Linked DNA regions of Homo sapiens: region 1 is linked to region 2. The links come from fine-mapping of genetic effects on gene expression. A gene starts in region 2. The other region holds a variant in brackets. All regions are shown on one strand. Distances are between the middles of the regions. Region 1 overlaps ANXA11 (annexin A11). Region 2 holds the start of ANXA11 (annexin A11).

The links. PIP is the estimated chance that this variant, and not a neighbour inherited with it, causes the effect.
Region 1: its variant is fine-mapped to the expression of ANXA11 in whole blood (INTERVAL, PIP 0.99).

What each region holds. Positions count from the first base shown.
Region 1 is chr10:80,154,004-80,162,521 of GRCh38, reverse strand. ANXA11 (annexin A11) reads left to right here. Exons shown (of 16, transcript NM_145868.2): 12 at 494-587; 13 at 3,327-3,422; 14 at 4,497-4,555; 15 at 4,759-4,881; 16 at 6,610-8,518. The coding sequence ends at 6,669. Among named protein-coding and RNA genes, the nearest start is that of PLAC9, 26 kb to the right of the region's middle. RefSeq lists enhancers at 3,502-4,043, 3,141-4,340. The variant C/T (reference allele first, on the strand shown) is at 4,114.
Region 2 is chr10:80,201,120-80,209,637 of GRCh38, reverse strand. ANXA11 (annexin A11) reads left to right here and starts at 4,101. Exons shown (of 16, transcript NM_145868.2): 1 at 4,101-4,295. It overlaps LINC00857 (long intergenic non-protein coding RNA 857), which reads right to left and starts at 1,928. Exons shown (of 2, transcript NR_038464.1): 1 at 1,407-1,928. RefSeq lists enhancers at 1,820-2,461, 1,492-2,691, 2,462-3,103, 5,743-5,822, 6,323-6,412 and a silencer at 3,878-4,757.

The DNA.
Region 1 (8,518 bases), 47 kb after region 2:
CGGACAAGGGCCTATACTCCTGGCTCGGTCTTCTGTGCCCAGTCAGCACTTGCCTCTGCCCTGGTCTCAGACCTGCTGCTCCTGCAGGGTCTGCCTTATTCAGTGTCTCTCTGGCTGGTAACATCCATTCCCATTCTGGGAGTCAGGGCTGGACACGCCTGGGGCTCAGGGCTCTGGCTTTTGCTCCAGCGAGAGTTTTGCATGCCACTTTTAGCGGGGCAAAAATTGTCTCATGCTCTGCCTTCTCAGTCCAGAGCTGCTTTGGCCTCATCTTGACCTGTGGGATCTCAGCCCCTGATTGCTGCTTTCTGCTCTTTTTCAGGGCTGCTACCTGAGGCCTAGCAGGCACTTTAGAGGCCATCTAGTTCAGAGGTTGCAAATTGGCAAATACTTTAGGCTCAAACCTTCAGAAGTTTACCAGGCTCTCCTGGGTGACCTGGGCCTGGGGTCTGGGTGTGGCCTGTGCCACATGTGCGTCTTCCTCTCTCTCCAGGAGCTGTATGCGGCCGGGGAGAACCGCCTGGGAACAGACGAGTCCAAGTTCAATGCGGTTCTGTGCTCCCGGAGCCGGGCCCACCTGGTAGCAGGTAAGGCAGGCTGGGGTCCCTCAGAGGCCAGTTAGATGAGGGCAGTCAGGGGATTGTGGGGAAACAAAGCTATGGGAACACTTGGTCGTTCCTCCCTGCGTGGGGCTTTCGCCTCCTCAAAAGAGCCCCCTGGTGGGAATTTAAAAGACACTGTCAGAGGGTTTCCTGAGTTCTGGCAAACATCCAGTTCTGGAGGTTCTACCGGTGTAGAAACCTGGTGTCTTTGTACGTGGGAATGTGGAACGTCAGAGTTGGGAGGGTCCTTCGGGAGCACCCAATCCAGTGTTTTCCAAAGCCTGGCATAAGAAACAGTCATAACAATAAAACTGGGTGCCATTCATTTACTCATTCATTCAACAGATGTAAATCGCGCTCCCGCATGGGTCAGTCTGTCAGGTGGTGGAGCAGGTGTGGGGCCACGGTGGGGGGCAGGGCACTGCAGAGTGTGTTCCATGGGCTGCACTTTCTCATTTGGGGAGACAGACAGTAAACAACAATGAAATAAAATCTGTATCAGATGGGAAATCCTGTAGAGGAAAATCAAGCTGGAAACAGGTAGGGAGTGATGGTAGGGTCCACCGGGAGGTGCTTGGGCCAGTCCCCACTGAGGTCGTGACATTTGATTTAAAAACCTAAAGGGAGATGCAGGGGCAGAGGCCTGCCTGGGGCTCCCAGCACGACTGAGAACAGTGAAGGGGGACCATGTGGAGCAGGTGGAGTGAGCAAGAGGAGTGGGAGGTGAGGGCAGAGAGGGGAGAGGGCCCTGCTGATGACTTCCCGGAGCTGGGTATTTATCCTGAGCAAAAGAGGAAGCCAGTGGAGGGCCCTGAGCAGAGGAGGCTGTGCAGAATCCCTGGCTGTGGTGCCGAGAATGGAGTGAAGGGTGCAAGGCCAAGCAGCGAAGCCTGTCGGGAGGCTGCTGCAGGGACCCGGGGAGGAATGGTGGTAATAGGGGCTTGTGGTGAGGAGGTGTCAGGTTCCGGCCATGTTTGCTGATGAATTGGACACGTGACGTGTGGGAGAGAGAGGGTTCGAGGATTATACAGGGTTTCTTTAGGCCAAGCAGTGGGAGAATGGCCCTCAACTGAGACAGGGGGACTGTAGGTGGAGCTGGCTTTAGGTGCCTGTAGGGTGGAGCTGCAGGGAGGCTGCTGGGTTGCTGAGTGTGGAGGTCAGGAGAGGTCTGGCCTGGTTGTGGAAGGTAAGGGAGCTATGGGTAGTTGAAGTTATCTGAGGCTCTGGGACTGCAGGAGGTCCCCTCAGGAGGGAGACTGTGGGGAGCCCACCGGTGTGAGGAGACTAAGAAGGAGCAGCTAGGGAGGGAGGAGGACGCAGAGGAAGGGGGTCCTGGAGGCCAGTGTGAGGTGGCAGGCAAGGACTGAGGATGGTGACCACACGGAGCAACTGGTGGGCTGTGGCCAGGGCTGCTCCAGTGGGCAGTGAGGGTGAAAACCCAGCGACCGCTCTGTGCTGCACACAGAGACAGGCGCTGTGGCTCTCCCCATTCGCAGCTGTGAAAGCAGGCACAGGGTGGTAGAGGAAGTAGGGGTGCACAGCTAGTAACAGCTGAGCTGGGATTTGAACCCAGACCACCCGACCCCAGAGCACACTTTTTAACCTCTGCACTATCCTGTAATGGAGCCTGAGTGAAAGCATTTTCATCTTAATCATTATTTCTTTTAATGAGTACAGAACATGTAAGTAGTGCATCAAGCCCATGGCTTCACAAACATTATTACTTAGGAGAAAAGAGTAGCTGATTGGAAGAAGATATTAATTGAGACAGATACACACAGAGCAGAAATCACAACTTTAAAATGCAAATGGTAGCTGAGACTCAGGCTGGGGAAGGAGAGTTTTATGTCCTGGGTCAGAACTGGAGTCAGGACCAAGGTCTCCATCATGCCACCTGTCTCTCTAGGAGCCAGCCATCCACTCCTGTGGGTGCTTAGCGTGTCCTAGGTCGAGGTGAGCAGCAAGAAGCCAGGCTGGCTGGGGCAGGCTGGGCCTCAGCTCACAGGCAGGCTGAGGAAGACAGATGGATGCATGAATAAAGCCAAGGAATGGCAGAGACTGGAGGTGTGGAGGATTTGAGAAGAGGGGACACTGTCTTGGAGTACATGGGAGTGGGCCCTGGAGGGGTATTAAGGTGCGATTTGGTTAAGCAGATTGGCAGTCCTGAGAAAGGGACCACACAGGGAGGGACATCAGGTGGTGCATGTAACTTGTGACGAAGACTCTGACTTCCTTGAGCGCTAGCAGGCCTGGGGACGTGCAGGGTGTGGGAGCAGAGTGGCAGGTGGGAGATTTTGGGGCAGAGGCCACCTCATGTGAGTCCTCTGTTAGTCTGCTCATGCTGCCATGACAAAATACCACAGACTGGGTGGCTTAAGCAGCAGATACTCATTTTGTTACAGTTTTGAAGGCCAGATATCCAAGAGTGGGGTGCCGGTTTCTCCCGTGGCCTCTTCGTGACAATCACTGTGCTCACATGGTCTTTCCTCTGCATGTGCACATCCCTGGGATCTCTGTGTGTGTCCTAATCTTCTCTTCTTCTAAGGAGACCAGGCGAATTGGATTAGGGTACACCCTAGCAGCATGTTTTAACTTAATTACCTCTTTAAAGATCTTATCTCCAAACACGGTTATATTCTGAAGTCCTGGGAGTTGGGACTTCCACATATGAACTTTGGGGAGACACATTTCAGTTCATAATATAAGCCTCTGTCATCCCCATAGTTTTCAATGAGTACCAGAGAATGACAGGCCGGGACATTGAGAAGAGCATCTGCCGGGAGATGTCCGGGGACCTGGAGGAGGGCATGCTGGCCGTGGGTAAGTGTCTCAGGTTTGCCGCCCACCTGCCAGGGGCTAACGTGTATCGTGAGTGTTCAGGCTGCTCGCCTGTCCTCCAGCTGATGGGTGACACCGTGAAGGGACCACAGGATCCAAGATCGCTCAGCCCAGAGTGTCCAGATGCTGGGAAGTCATGCTGCTTCCCGGTTCCCTGTGCAGTTGAACCCCTAGCTGTCCTGGAGGTGTCTTGTGTGTGTTTGCGGTGCAGCTCTGGAGTAGGGAACTGCAGTGTGGGTATTAGTGGGAGGGCATCCAACTGCGCTCCCGGAGGAGTATGACTCATATCCTGCCACGTTTCCTCTAAAAATACATCCCTGCAGGCAGTTGTCAGATGTTTGTGATGGAAACACGTGGAAAGATTTTTACTTGCAGCAGCGAAACAGGCCCATGCTGAGGAAAGCTGGCTTGGCTCCAGGATGGTGGTGTGCCTCTTACATTGCCCATGTCCTCTAGCAGGGCCCTCCCACTGTGCAGAGTTGGGTCCCTGCCCTGAGGCCCTCACAACCCCTCTTTCTACTCACTTGGGAAAATCAGTCTGCCCCTTTTTTCATTATGCTTTTTTTGGAGCTTTCTGGATGGGAGAGATGGAAAATCCTCATTTCCCTGCCTGTCCCCCATAGTAGGTCTCATGGCCTGGGAAGCCTAGGGAGATGCACATTCCACTCAGCCA[C/T]GGTTTCTCCATGACGGTCATGGCCTCTCCAGTCTGCCCCTCCTGCCTGAGCAGCAGCACAGTTCCTCATCACCATCCACATTGCTTCCCTGTGTAGCTCCTAGCCCCACTAAGACCCCCGCCCCTCTGACTCTTGGTCCTTTCACCGCAGTGGTTGCCAGGAAAGAGGGTGGGTTGGTTTCCAGGCTTTGCGTGTTTCTGTTCCAAATAGCTGGAGCCAAGATCATGGGATAGTTGAGCCTGGAACAGAAGGAGGAGGAGAAAAGATGGATGCAGTGATGGGTTTGACATCTGGGCCTCTAAGAGGACACTTGTAGACTCCATGCCCTGCTTGGGCTGAGAATTTTCTGCAGATCTGGTTATGCCGAGTTTCTCTCTTCTAGTGAAATGTCTCAAGAATACCCCAGCCTTCTTTGCGGAGAGGCTCAACAAGGCCATGAGGGTATGTAACTTCCATGTGCAGGTTGCGATGGAACCTTAGCCTCGCCTGTGCCTGGGACCAAGGGCTGAGGGCAGAAGGCCTGGGGAGAGCTAAATCTCAGCTGAGAGTTCCGAGGACCTGGGTAGGGAGGGGACTGGAGGGCCCAGGGCAGGTGGGAAGGTGAGGAGGCCTGGTGCTCATGCTCTTGGGTGGACTCTCTTTAGGGGGCAGGAACAAAGGACCGGACCCTGATTCGCATCATGGTGTCTCGCAGCGAGACCGACCTCCTGGACATCAGATCAGAGTATAAGCGGATGTACGGCAAGTCGCTGTACCACGACATCTCGGTACGGGCCTGCTGCAGGCCAACTGGGCTCCCTTTTGGCATCTCAGTCACCTGTGGAACCTCCCTCCTTGGAGTGGCCATATGCTTGGCCTCTGTGCTGTGTGTGGGCATCTTGATTATGGACCTCGGACTTGTTCATCCCCTTGCCCTTAAACAGATTATAAATTTCTGAGGGCAGGTGGATCATGACCTTGCTGTCGCCCCCACCTTGCATCCCCCAGCAGCATCAGAGAACACTCGGGACCTCCCCAACCTTGACCGTGACCTTCAGCGTTCCGATCACCGTGTGATTCCTTGATCTGTCAGTGAGAACTCATGTCCCAAAGGCTCTGTGGAGCTCTGCTGTCACTCCCTGACAAAGCACTTCCTGCACTCAGCTTTATGGCGTAGGCCACATAGTAAGGCCGTTCAGAGCGAGGGCCCTGGGGGTCACGCCACTTGGAGTCCAGCTTTTCTACTTGCTAACTGTGTGACCTTGAATGGCTCCCTTAAATCTCCCTGAACCCCAGCTCCATTGTCTTTAAGATGAGAAAATAATCGTTCCTTCCTGGGAATGTTGTGAGTATTGAGTGAGGCAGTGCAGGTCAAGTGTCTATTAAACACTAGCCACAGTTGTATCGCTGTGTGGCAGAGCCAGTCTGACAAAATACATTCTCAGCTGTGTGGTCTAACGCTCAAATTCTGAACTCACATGAGCCTTGCAATTGCACCATGGGGACCACGTCCTCCCACCTTAGACTCAGTAGCATTTGATGATGGTGGGCATGTCATCACAGGAAACTCACTGTGTTTCCTTGGCTGTATGAATGAAGCTGTTGTTAGAGAATTAGTGATTCTAGGCTGGGCACAGTGGCTCACGCCTGTAATCCCAGCACTTTGGGAGGCTGAGGCAGGTGGATCATTTGAGGTCAGGAGTTCGAGACCAGCCTGGCCAACAAGGTAAAACCCTGTCTCTACTAAAAATACAAAATTAGCTGGGCTTGCCTGTAATCCCAGCTAATTAGGTAGGCTGCGGCAGGAGAATTGCTTGAACCCGGGAGACAGAGGTTGCAGTGAGCTGGGATCACGCCATTCCACTTCAGTCTTGGTGACAGAGTGAGACTTCGTCTCAAAAAAAAAAAGAGAGTTAATAATTCATTACAGAGTATCTCCTGCATGCCAGCAAGCTATGGACATCTGGAAGAAGCCACATGCCTTGCCCTCAAGTTGCTTAGGGTGGAAGGAAATGATTAGAAATGAGCCAAGCCGAGCCTGCACTCTTAGAGTAAGTGTAGTGGCCTCAGACAGAGGAGAGATCCCTGGGACCTGGGCAGTCTGAGCCTTCCACTGGACAGTCATGTGTGAGGAGATTGCATTTCCTGAGCAGGACACTGTGTTGCGTTACATTGGTAACCCCAATTTAAGGCAGCATAAATGCACTGGGAAAACAGCAATATTGGTTAGCCCTGGGAAGTGGTTTTTAGGATGATTATAATTTTTTTTTGTGGGTATTCATTTGATGTGGATAGCTGGGGTGAGTGCTGCTTTCCGTCTTCTGATGGGGGCCTGGAGAAGGCTGAACTGCATTTTTTAAGGTCTGTGACGCCTGCTGCAGGACCTGCAGTGGGAGAAAATTCCCCAGGGTGGGGCTTTCTCCCTATAAGGGTGCTCAGGGCTGAATATCAGGACCCAGAAGGCTGAAAGTGACTGTCCCTCCCTTAACGGATGTCTTCCTTGTTTCTGTGGCCAGGGAGATACTTCAGGGGATTACCGGAAGATTCTGCTGAAGATCTGTGGTGGCAATGACTGAACAGTGACTGGTGGCTCACTTCTGCCCACCTGCCGGCAACACCAGTGCCAGGAAAAGGCCAAAAGAATGTCTGTTTCTAACAAATCCACAAATAGCCCCGAGATTCACCGTCCTAGAGCTTAGGCCTGTCTTCCACCCCTCCTGACCCGTATAGTGTGCCACAGGACCTGGGTCGGTCTAGAACTCTCTCAGGATGCCTTTTCTACCCCATCCCTCACAGCCTCTTGCTGCTAAAATAGATGTTTCATTTTTCTGACTCATGCAATCATTCCCCTTTGCCTGTGGCTAAGACTTGGCTTCATTTCGTCATGTAATTGTATATTTTTATTTGGAGGCATATTTTCTTTTCTTACAGTCATTGCCAGACAGAGGCATACAAGTCTGTTTGCTGCATACACATTTCTGGTGAGGGCGACTGGGTGGGTGAAGCACCGTGTCCTCGCTGAGGAGAGAAAGGGAGGCGTGCCTGAGAAGGTAGCCTGTGCATCTGGTGAGTGTGTCACGAGCTTTGTTACTGCCAAACTCACTCCTTTTTAGAAAAAACAAAAAAAAAGGGCCAGAAAGTCATTCCTTCCATCTTCCTTGCAGAAACCACGAGAACAAAGCCAGTTCCCTGTCAGTGACAGGGCTTCTTGTAATTTGTGGTATGTGCCTTAAACCTGAATGTCTGTAGCCAAAACTTGTTTCCACATTAAGAGTCAGCCAGCTCTGGAATGGTCTGGAAATGTCTTCCTGGTACCAACTTGTTTTCTTCTGCTTGATTCTGCCCTGTGGCTCAGAGGTCTGGCCTTATCAGCCAGTGAAAGTTCATGTAACCTTACGTAGAGATTTGTGTGCAGGAAACCCTGAGCATACACTAGTTTGCAGGGACTCGTAAGGACATGGGAAGGGAGGTTCCCGAAATCCAGGCAGGAGGCCCAGACACCTGAAAGGCAAAGGGATCTTGGTTGGTTGCAGGTGCAGTGAAGTCCACTGAAGGTGTGGTGCGAAGAATGCAGTCCTTCACCCAGGTCCCAGGAGGGAAGAAGGGTGTGTGCTAATTCCTGGTGCCCCTCGGCGGGGGCCAGAGAGAAGGATGGGGACAACCCAGAGAGTCACAAGACCAGTGCCTCCCCTCAGGGTGCCTCCAGGCTGAAAGGGGCTCCTGGCTCTGGTCTCTGGGGACCCTGTGCCCGTTGGTTGGTGGTGTGAGGGAAGAGAATCCATAAGAGAGTTTCTGAGAATTATGGTGTCATGTCCAGAAGCTAGAGCTTACCTTGCATCAGGGGTCTCCACCCACTCCTTTTCCAACCTCCTGCGTTGAGGTTTAGAAAAGAGAGAATCGACTAGGCACTATGGCTCACGCCTGTAATCCAAGGACTTTGGGAAGCTGAGGTGAGAGGATCACTTGAGCTCAGGAGTTCAAGACTAGCCTAGCCAACAGCGAGACCCCTGTCTCTACTAAAAAATTTGGCCAGGCGTGGTGGCTCACGGCTGTAATCCCAGCACTTTGGGAGGTGAGGCGGGCAGATCACCTGAGGTCAGGAGTTCGAGACCCAGCCTGGCCAACATGGTGAAACCCCATCTCTACTAAAAATACAAAAATTAGCCAGGCATGGTGGCACATTCCTGTAATCCCAGCTACACAGGATGCTGAGGCAGGAGAATCACTTGAACCCAGGAGGCAGAGGTTGTAGTGAGCTGAGATCACACCATTGCACTTCAACCTGGGTGGACAGAGTGAGACTCTGTCTCAAAAAAAAAAAAAAATTTACCTGGCATTGTAGTGCATTCCCTATAGTCGGCTACTCTGGAGGCTGAGGCAGGAAGATCCTTAGAGCCCAAGAAATTGAGGCCGTAGTAAGCTGTG
Region 2 (8,518 bases):
AAAAGGATAAAACAATATTAATTTGTATAAGCCTAATAATTTGCTCTCAAAATTATAAGGCTGGCCGGGTGAGGTGGTACATGGCTGTAATGCCAGCCACCTAGGAGGCTGAGGCAGGAGGATGGCTTGAGGTCAGGAGTTTGAGGCTGCAGTTATAATCACACCTGTGAATAGCTACTGTACTCCAGCCTGGGAAACATGGTGAGACACTGCCTCTTAAACAAAAATCAAAAAACCAAAAAAAATAGTATAAAGCAAAATCAGACTAAATTAGAGGGAGAAATTGACAAACTACAATAAAAGTGGGAAATGTTAAACCTACTCTTTCAGAAATCAATGGATTGAACAGGAGAGAAAAAAAAAAAAAACCCAGGAGATAAAAGATCTAAATAACCTGATTAGCAAGCTAGATGGAGAGATATAGAGAAAAAAAAACCACATAAAAAGTGAAGAGACGTTCACAAAAATTGGGACAGCCAAAAAAAGTCTGTATATGAGGCCACAAAGGAGGCATTAACAAATTCTAAAAGAACACATTTCCTCATCTCCAAGCATTAAAGTTAGAGATCAATGACAAAATGATTGATTTATTTTTATTTAAATTTTTTTTTGTAGAGGGGCTCTCACTGTGTTGCCCAGGCTGGTCTTAAACTCCTGATCTCAAGCGATCTTCCCACCTTGGCCTCCCAGAGTGCTGGGATTACATGCCTGAGCCACTGGGCCCCTCCCCAAATGATTATTATTATTTTTTAAAAAACTGAAGTTTGAAAACAAAAAAAGAATGGAAAATATACGTCTAAATAATCCATGAATTAAGCATACAATCCTAACATAAAAAACAAAATATTGGCCAGGCACAGTGGCTGACGCCTGTAATCCCGACACTTTGGGAGGCTGAGGCCGGTGGATCACTTGAGGTCAGGAGTTGGAGACCAGCCTGGCCAAAATGGTAAAACCCCATCTCTACTAAAAATTAAAAAATTAGCCGGGTGTGGTGGCGTGCACCTGTAATCCCAGCTACTCAGGAGGTTGAGGCAGGAAAATCTCTTGAACCCGGGAAGTGGAGGTTGCAGTGAGCTGAGATCTTGCCACTGCAGTCCAGCCTGGACGACAGAGCGAGACTCTGTAACAACAACAACAACAAAATCCAAATATGTATAACTAAGTGATAACAAAAGCATAGCATATTAAAACTTGTGATATTCAGCTAAAGCAGACTTTTGAGGGAAATGATAGTCATATATACTTATTAGAAAACAACAAAAGAGGCCGGGTGCGGTAACTCACACCCGTAATCCCAACACTGGCCCTAAAATTAAAATTTTTAAAAAGGAAGCTTATATACCATACTACTCAGAGCTATATAGCACGTCACCATTTTTTACAGTGCACTCACCTTCCCTTACCTTGTATGATGTTTCTATGAGCCCTGGGAAACAATGAAGCAGGGGTGATTTTATGGATTTTTATAGGTCACGTTGAAGATTTTATAGGTGAGAAAGCCGAGGCTCGGAGGATGCATGACTTGCAAGTGTCAGAATCAGAACTAGAATAGATCCCACACATTTGAACACCGAGTTTGGTGTCTTTTCCTTCACACCGCGTTCTCTGGGGGTGCCTGGGCGGTGACCCCTGCCATTGGCCTTGAGGATTAGGGCCTCAGCTCGGGTCCTCTGCAGAGCCTCCTCAGTCCCTAGCAACTTGCTGGCACCTAGCCGGGGCTAAACGCAGGTTTGTTGAAAATTATAAAAGGGTAAGCCCAGGGGTAGCTATTCACCATTCTGGGTTTGAAGAGCTCTGATGCAGAAAGGTGTATACATCCAGCAGGAATTCCACCCTACATGATTTATTATAAACGTGGTATTCTAGGAGCATTCGCTCAGCCACGGAGAAAAATGGGCCTTTCGAAGAAGCTGGCCTTCGCGGTCGCTGTGGGGCGGCAGAGCAGGCGCAGGCGTCCAGGCAGTGGGGGCTGGGTAGGCGCCAGGAGACCTTCCCGGACCAATCCCCGGGCCCAGAGAGAGCGCCTGGAGACCTTACCTCCCCAGGAAATTCACACAGATTTCTTGGGGGCTTCACACCCGCGCCCCCAGTCCCGCCATCTCCTACGCCGCAGCAGGCGCCCCCACCAGGGTAATAACCCACTCTGAGAGTCTCTGGTGGTGCCTCTGATCCTCTGCTCTTCTGTTCCAGGCAGCGTTTTCTCCGAGCGGCTCTGGAGACTTTGGCCTGAGTTTCACCCTCACTCGCCGACTCATGTCCAAAAAATGCAGTCCAGCCCCGAAAGAGAGCCGCGCCTGCTGGTGGGGGTAGGGGGTGTTGGAGCGGCCACGGAATATGACTGAGCGCCCGGGGCCCGTTGTGAGGCCGGGGCCAGGCTGTCCCAAGGCACCGTTCCTGCCCGGCACCAGCACACCTGCCCAGACAGGGAGAAGGTCGGAGCCTCCCCTCCAGTCCTTCCGGATTTTATTGTTCAGAGCGACTTTAAAACGCAAATCGGGCCGGGCGCGGTGGCTCACGCCTGTAATCCCAGCACTTTGGGAGGCCGAGGCGGGCGGATCATTTGAGCCTAGGAGTTCGAGAACAGCTTGGCCAACATAGTGAAACCCCGTCTCTACTAAAAATGAAAATTAGCCGGGCGTGGTGGTGGGCATCTGTAGATCCAGCAACTCAGGAGGCCGAGGCAGGAGAATCGCTTGAACCCGGGAGGCGGAAGTTGCAGTGAGCCGAGATCGCGCCACTGCACTCCAGCCTGGGCGACAGATCGAGACTCCGTCTCAGAAAAAAAAAAAAAAAAAGGAAAATCGAACCAGCAGCTTGTTTGTAACAGCCAAACATAGGCAACAACCTAAATGTCCTTCAGTAAGGAGCTAGGTAATGAAGAATGGTGAAGCGCACGATGGCGCGCAGTGTGCAGTGGATGGGAAGAACCAGGTCTGTTCAGGAGCACTTGTATGGAAAGACCCTCCAAGATATAGTGAGTAAAAAAACATGTTGCAGAAAAGTACTGCAATATCGTTTTGTAAACAATACGTTTATGTAAACACACACACACAGTGTTAAAGAGAGATATTTGGAAGGACACACCTAAGAGTGGGCTGGGGGAGTGGAGGGAAGAGTGAATCTCAATTTTTACTCATTTTTTGAATTTTTTATTTTTAGTTTTTTAGAGACTGGGTCTCACTATGTTGCCCAGGCTAGTCTGGAAGCCCTGTCTTCAAGCCATCCTCCTGTCTTGGCCTTCCAAAGTGCTGAGATTACAGGCGTCAGCCACCACTCATTAAAAAAAAAAATTGTATACCTACCATATATGCATATATTACCTGGGTGACCTTTTAAAAATATGCTTTATTTTTAGAACATCTTTAGATTTACAGAAAAAGTGTGAATACAGGGAATTCTCATAAACCCGGGCTTTTCCTATTATTAACATCTTAAGTCATTTTTATATCTCCGTGGGTTCCTCTTGGCTGTGACAGTGTCCTAGACTTTCCTTGTTTTTGATGACCTTGCTAGTTTTCAGGAGTACTGGTCATGTATATGGCAAGGGCCTCAATTGATTTGTGATGTTTTCCTCATGATTACAGTGGGGTTAGGTGTTCTTGGGAGGAAGACCACAAGCGGTGCATGCAATCAGTATGATTTACCCCTGTCGAGGTCACCTTGACGGCTGGGTGGTTTGTCAGGTTTCTCCACGATAGTCACTGACCGCTCCCTTCCTCACATACTGTGCGTGACCTTCCCCCCTCCACCACCACCGAGTGTTGCTATAAAGGAAATGCGTTTGACCTTTTCAGTGTAAAAAGTTTTCTCGACCTTAAAGAGAGTCACTAACCGACGCACACGGGGCTGGAGAGGACTTAGGAAATGCCCACCCCTGCAGGAGGGCGAATGCGGCTCTGCGCGGCACTGGGCGCCGCAGGGGTTAGGGGCGGCAGAGGGACCTCCGGAGCCCGAGACTTCCTGGAGCAGCTCCGCAGCCGGAAGGCTGCTGCTCCTCGCGGGCCCGCCGTGCCCAGTCCTCATCTTGGGGGCGGGGCCGCGCTCAGGCCCCGCCCCTCCCTTGCACTGCCTCTGGCACCTGGGGCAGCCGCGCCCGCGGAGTTTTCCGCCCGGCGCTGACGGCTGCTGCGCCCGCGGCTCCCCAGTGCCCCGAGTGCCCCGCGGGCCCCGCGAGCGGGAGTGGGACCCAGCCCCTAGGCAGAACCCAGGCGCCGCGCCCGGGACGCCCGCGGAGAGAGCCACTCCCGCCCACGTCCCATTTCGCCCCTCGCGTCCGGAGTCCCCGTGGCCAGGTGAGTGAGGGTCCCGAGCCGGCTGGGGGCCTGGGACCAGGCGGCGGCAGTGCACCGCGGCGCCGCGGGTGAGGCCCGGGGCTGCCTGGCGCCCAGCCCAGCGCGGCCCTGCGGCTTCCTGGTTGCACTACAGGCGTGGGGGTGGGGGGCAGGGGAGGGCGTCGGCGGGTCGCGGGCGGGCCGTGTCGGCCTGGCAGCCCCCTAGATCAGCCTCGGCGTCTGGGGCTGCTCCCTCATGTGTGGTCGGGGTGCACTCGCCGTCCCCCCGGGCTCAGGGGTCGGGGTCTCAGTCTGGGCCTGGGTAGGGCCAGGGGCCGTGACCCTGGGCGCAGGAGGCAACGGGTGGCGGGAGGGGTGCCGGAGGCCCGGCCCCGCAGCCCTGCGGAGCCCTCCAGGGTGCGCGCGCCCTTCTAGGCGAGGCTTGGGGAGATTAAGCAGAGAAGGCTATCTTCAGGAACTTTCCTCCGAAACTGGGAGCACGCACATTCCTGGGAGCTGCTACCATTGCAGTTTATTTGTAAGGAACTCTCCCCAGTGTTTGAGGGAATGCGGGAGCCATCCCAGGTGCTGTGCGTGCCTTCGCCCCTTCCCCAACCTTGATCCCCAGTTTCAGGAAGGGATTCCTGGACTTGTATCTCCCATGGGTGCAGGCCAGGCCCTTAAGACTTAGGTAAAATGGTCTGTTGGTTTAAAGGAGACACGCGAAGTTTGTTACCTAGAGACTTTGGAGGGGAAAAGTTAAGCCAGCCAGTGCTAGCCCAAGCTGGAAACAGTCAGCCCGGGGCATTTCTGTCTCTGCCCTCCAATCCTTGACCTCTCTGTAGAGATTCGGCGTTTGTGGTAGCTCTCCCCTCTGTTCTCTGCGCTGGGCATGGAGTGGAGCTGTGAGGCCGAGCCCCTGCCCTGCCCTGCCCTGCCCTGCCCACGCAACAGGGACTAGGTTTGCAGGGCAGGGCCTGGTATGCTCACCCTTCACTGGCTCTCATTGCTTTCCTCATTCCTTTTATGCGGCAGTCAATTGTTGGGGATTCCAGGGGATTAACAGGGCCCCTTTCCTCAAGGCATTCTTTGTGCTGCAAGGTGTTCCCTGATAAGAGAGGCCAGGTGAGGTGCCAGGGCAGTTTGTTGCCCTGGCATTGGGTGCCCACTACTTCAGGCTCCTGCATACCTTGCTATCTTTTCTTTGACTATTGTCTGTGCTTTGGTTTTTCATCTGTAAAATGGGGGTAATAGTAATCCCTGCCTCACAGGCTTGTGAGATTCAGTGCATTCATTTATTTAATAACAATACAGAGCTCAGGTACGGACCAGTCAGAACAGGTGGTGACTGCTGCACCACACTTGTGTATCCCAGATGGGTGTCACCCACATTAGCCATAAAGTGTGTGAGGCAGGCCTGGGTCATAAATAATCAGGTGTAAGGGTCAATAAATAGTAGCAGTGGAAGGTTCAGCTAAAGTTGAAATGCACTTCTCCTGAACCGTCTTTCTGGCTTAGCTCATGCTAAGCTCATGCTCTCTGTCTTACTGGAATGCCCTCCCTCCCCTGTCTGGCCTAGCATTCTCCACCCTCCTGGGAGCCATCCGGGTGCCTGCTCCCAGCAGGAGGGACGGGATATGCTCTGAGCTCACTCAGCCCTTCTGGCACTGACTCGGTTCTCATCTCTCGCCTTGCATAGTATTTGTGTGGCGGTGTGGCTTATCGCTGCCCTGTCCTCTGACTCTGGAGGGTGGGGGCTGTTTCTGACTTACCTCTTGGTGGCAGCACTCAGGATGGGCCTTGCCTAATGTAGGTGCTCAGAAAATTAGTTGTCGTTAGTTGAACAACAGAGACAGCACAGGGAAGTGGTTTCCCTGTGGTTAAAATATAGGACCTTGAAGGCTGGGTTTGGATAGAGAAACGTGGGGAGGGTGAGATGGAGATGAATTGGGACTAAGAGGTGGGAGTGGAAGCCTCACCTGACGCCTTTATGCATGATACTATAGAAAGGGCCCACCCTGGGTGGATGTGTCTAGAAGGCCAGGATCGATTAGTGATGCCTAGTTCACGTGATTGGGGAGGTGATGTGTGGCTTGGGATGACAGGAGTGGGAGTTGAGACAGAATAGGTTAGTGTGGGTTCTTCTTGGAAATTGTAGAATAGAGAAAAGAAACTGGTGTGGGCAGGAGCTGAATGTGGAACCAAAATGCATGCTGAATGCTGGAACATCAGAGGTCCTGGGACCTTTCTGGTGCACCCCCTCCTTCCTCCTGGATTCACCCCTCTTCTTCTGCTGTCTTTTTTTTTTTTTTTTTTTTTGAGACAGATTTCGCCCTGTCACCCAGGCTGGAGTGCAGTGATGCAATCTTGGCTCACTGCAACCTCCGCTCCCTGGGTTTAAATGATTCTCCTCCCTTGGCCTCCCGAGTAGCTGGGATTACAGGCATGCACCACCATGCCCGGCTAATTTTTGTATTTTTAGTAGAGACGGGGCTTCACCATGTTGGCCAGGCTGGTCTTGAACTCCTGACCTCAGGTGATCTGCCTGCCTCAGTCTCCCAAAGTGCTGGGATTACAGGCATGAGTCACCGTGCCCGGCCTCCTCTCTCTTCTTAGCCACTGTTTTCCCCCGTAAGCCTGAAGCAGTTCCTGGCACTTGTTCCCATGGGGAAGCGTCTGTGTAAGGGTATGCTTCACCAGCACTGCCAAGGAAGTAGACTTTTCACTTTCTCTGGATTTTTCTCTGCAACACCCTCTGATCCCATTGCCCCCAGAATAGTAGGAATTTTGAGTGATACCTAGATAGGAAAGCTCTTAGGATTAATGAAGAAACTGAGATTTTCTTGGTGGGAGTTTGTGCTTTTAAAGGGAGTTGTTGCAATTCAATGGAACTCTGTAATAACCACTGAAACTGTTACACATTAGGCTTACTGACCCTATCTCCTATAACCCATGAAATAAAGACCTGATAGTCACATAGTTGTTTGCTATTTGGGAGGATCCTAAAAGTACAGCCTGAACAGTGACCCAAACCACAGCTGGCCTTGCCCATGCTGATGTGAGGAAGGAATGGGTGGGGGCAACTAAGAAATTGGGGGACAGAGTTCTCTGTGCTAGGTATCCTAGGACAAGCCACCCAGCCACACAGAGACCCCCCGCTTCCCCCCCACAGAACAGTTCTGGATGATAAAATGCCTGCCTGGAATGGAGAATCAGATGAGAAGATGTTTGCAAAGGGGTTTGAGATCAGTTAGCGGGTGGTGATGACAATGTTGATACCGTGGGTGTGTGACTGCCAGGAGCTGTGAAGCAGAGGGTGGAGTGTGCGGTGGTCAAAGCCTGGTTCTGGGATCTCTAGCTTTCCAGGGGCTTAGGCTCCGCCTTAGCAGAAAAGAAGGAAAGGAAATTGAGAAGGAAGTCAGGTGTCCCCTGCCCCTCACACTTGGGGATGGCTGACTTGGAGGACATGAGATGGGGGAAATCTGAGTGAGGGCAGAGAAGAGAAATGTGGAGGCTGCTCACAGGGAGGCTAGGGAGCATATGGCATATCCAGCCTGGGGAGTGGCACCACTGGGGGAAAGGGTGCGTGTGACAGTGGGGAAGGAGTGGTGATAACAGATGTGAGCTTGCTGTGTCCACTAAAAAGGTCACGGCTATTTTTAGGAAGTAGGTGACAAGGCATGTTCCTGTAGAACTGCTTATTACTGAGAACCCACTGTTGGCCTCGCCCTGCGTGGTGTGCTTAAAAGGAGAGACCGCCCCCACTCACCCTAGAGTCATCCACCTGGTGTCCCTGAGACATGGGACACTGGATGAGGACCAGGTTTGGAGGATGAAGAAGATCATGTATTTGGTTTTGGACATGTTGTGTTTGAGGTGTCTTTGAGATACCAAATAAGCTGGTGGGTCTGGGGCTCAGGAGGCGTCTTGGCTAGACAGACATTTGTCTAGGTTGTGTTTGTATTTGAAGTCATGGGCACAGCGAGATTGAAGAACTCACCTCGAACAGCTGAGTAAAGGAAGATGAGCCTATAAAGGACCCAGAAAAAGAGCGACCTGAGAGGGGCCCAGAAAGCCAGGACAGAGTTGTATCCCAGGGGCCAGGGTGAGTCTGCTTCGTGGGATGGAGTGGTCAGCTTGGCATCGCGGCTGTGGTGAGTGATATGGAGGAGATGTGGCTGCCTTCACTGCTTTGGTGGGATGATGTGAGCAGAAGCGAGGTTGGAGTGAATGGGTGAGGAGTA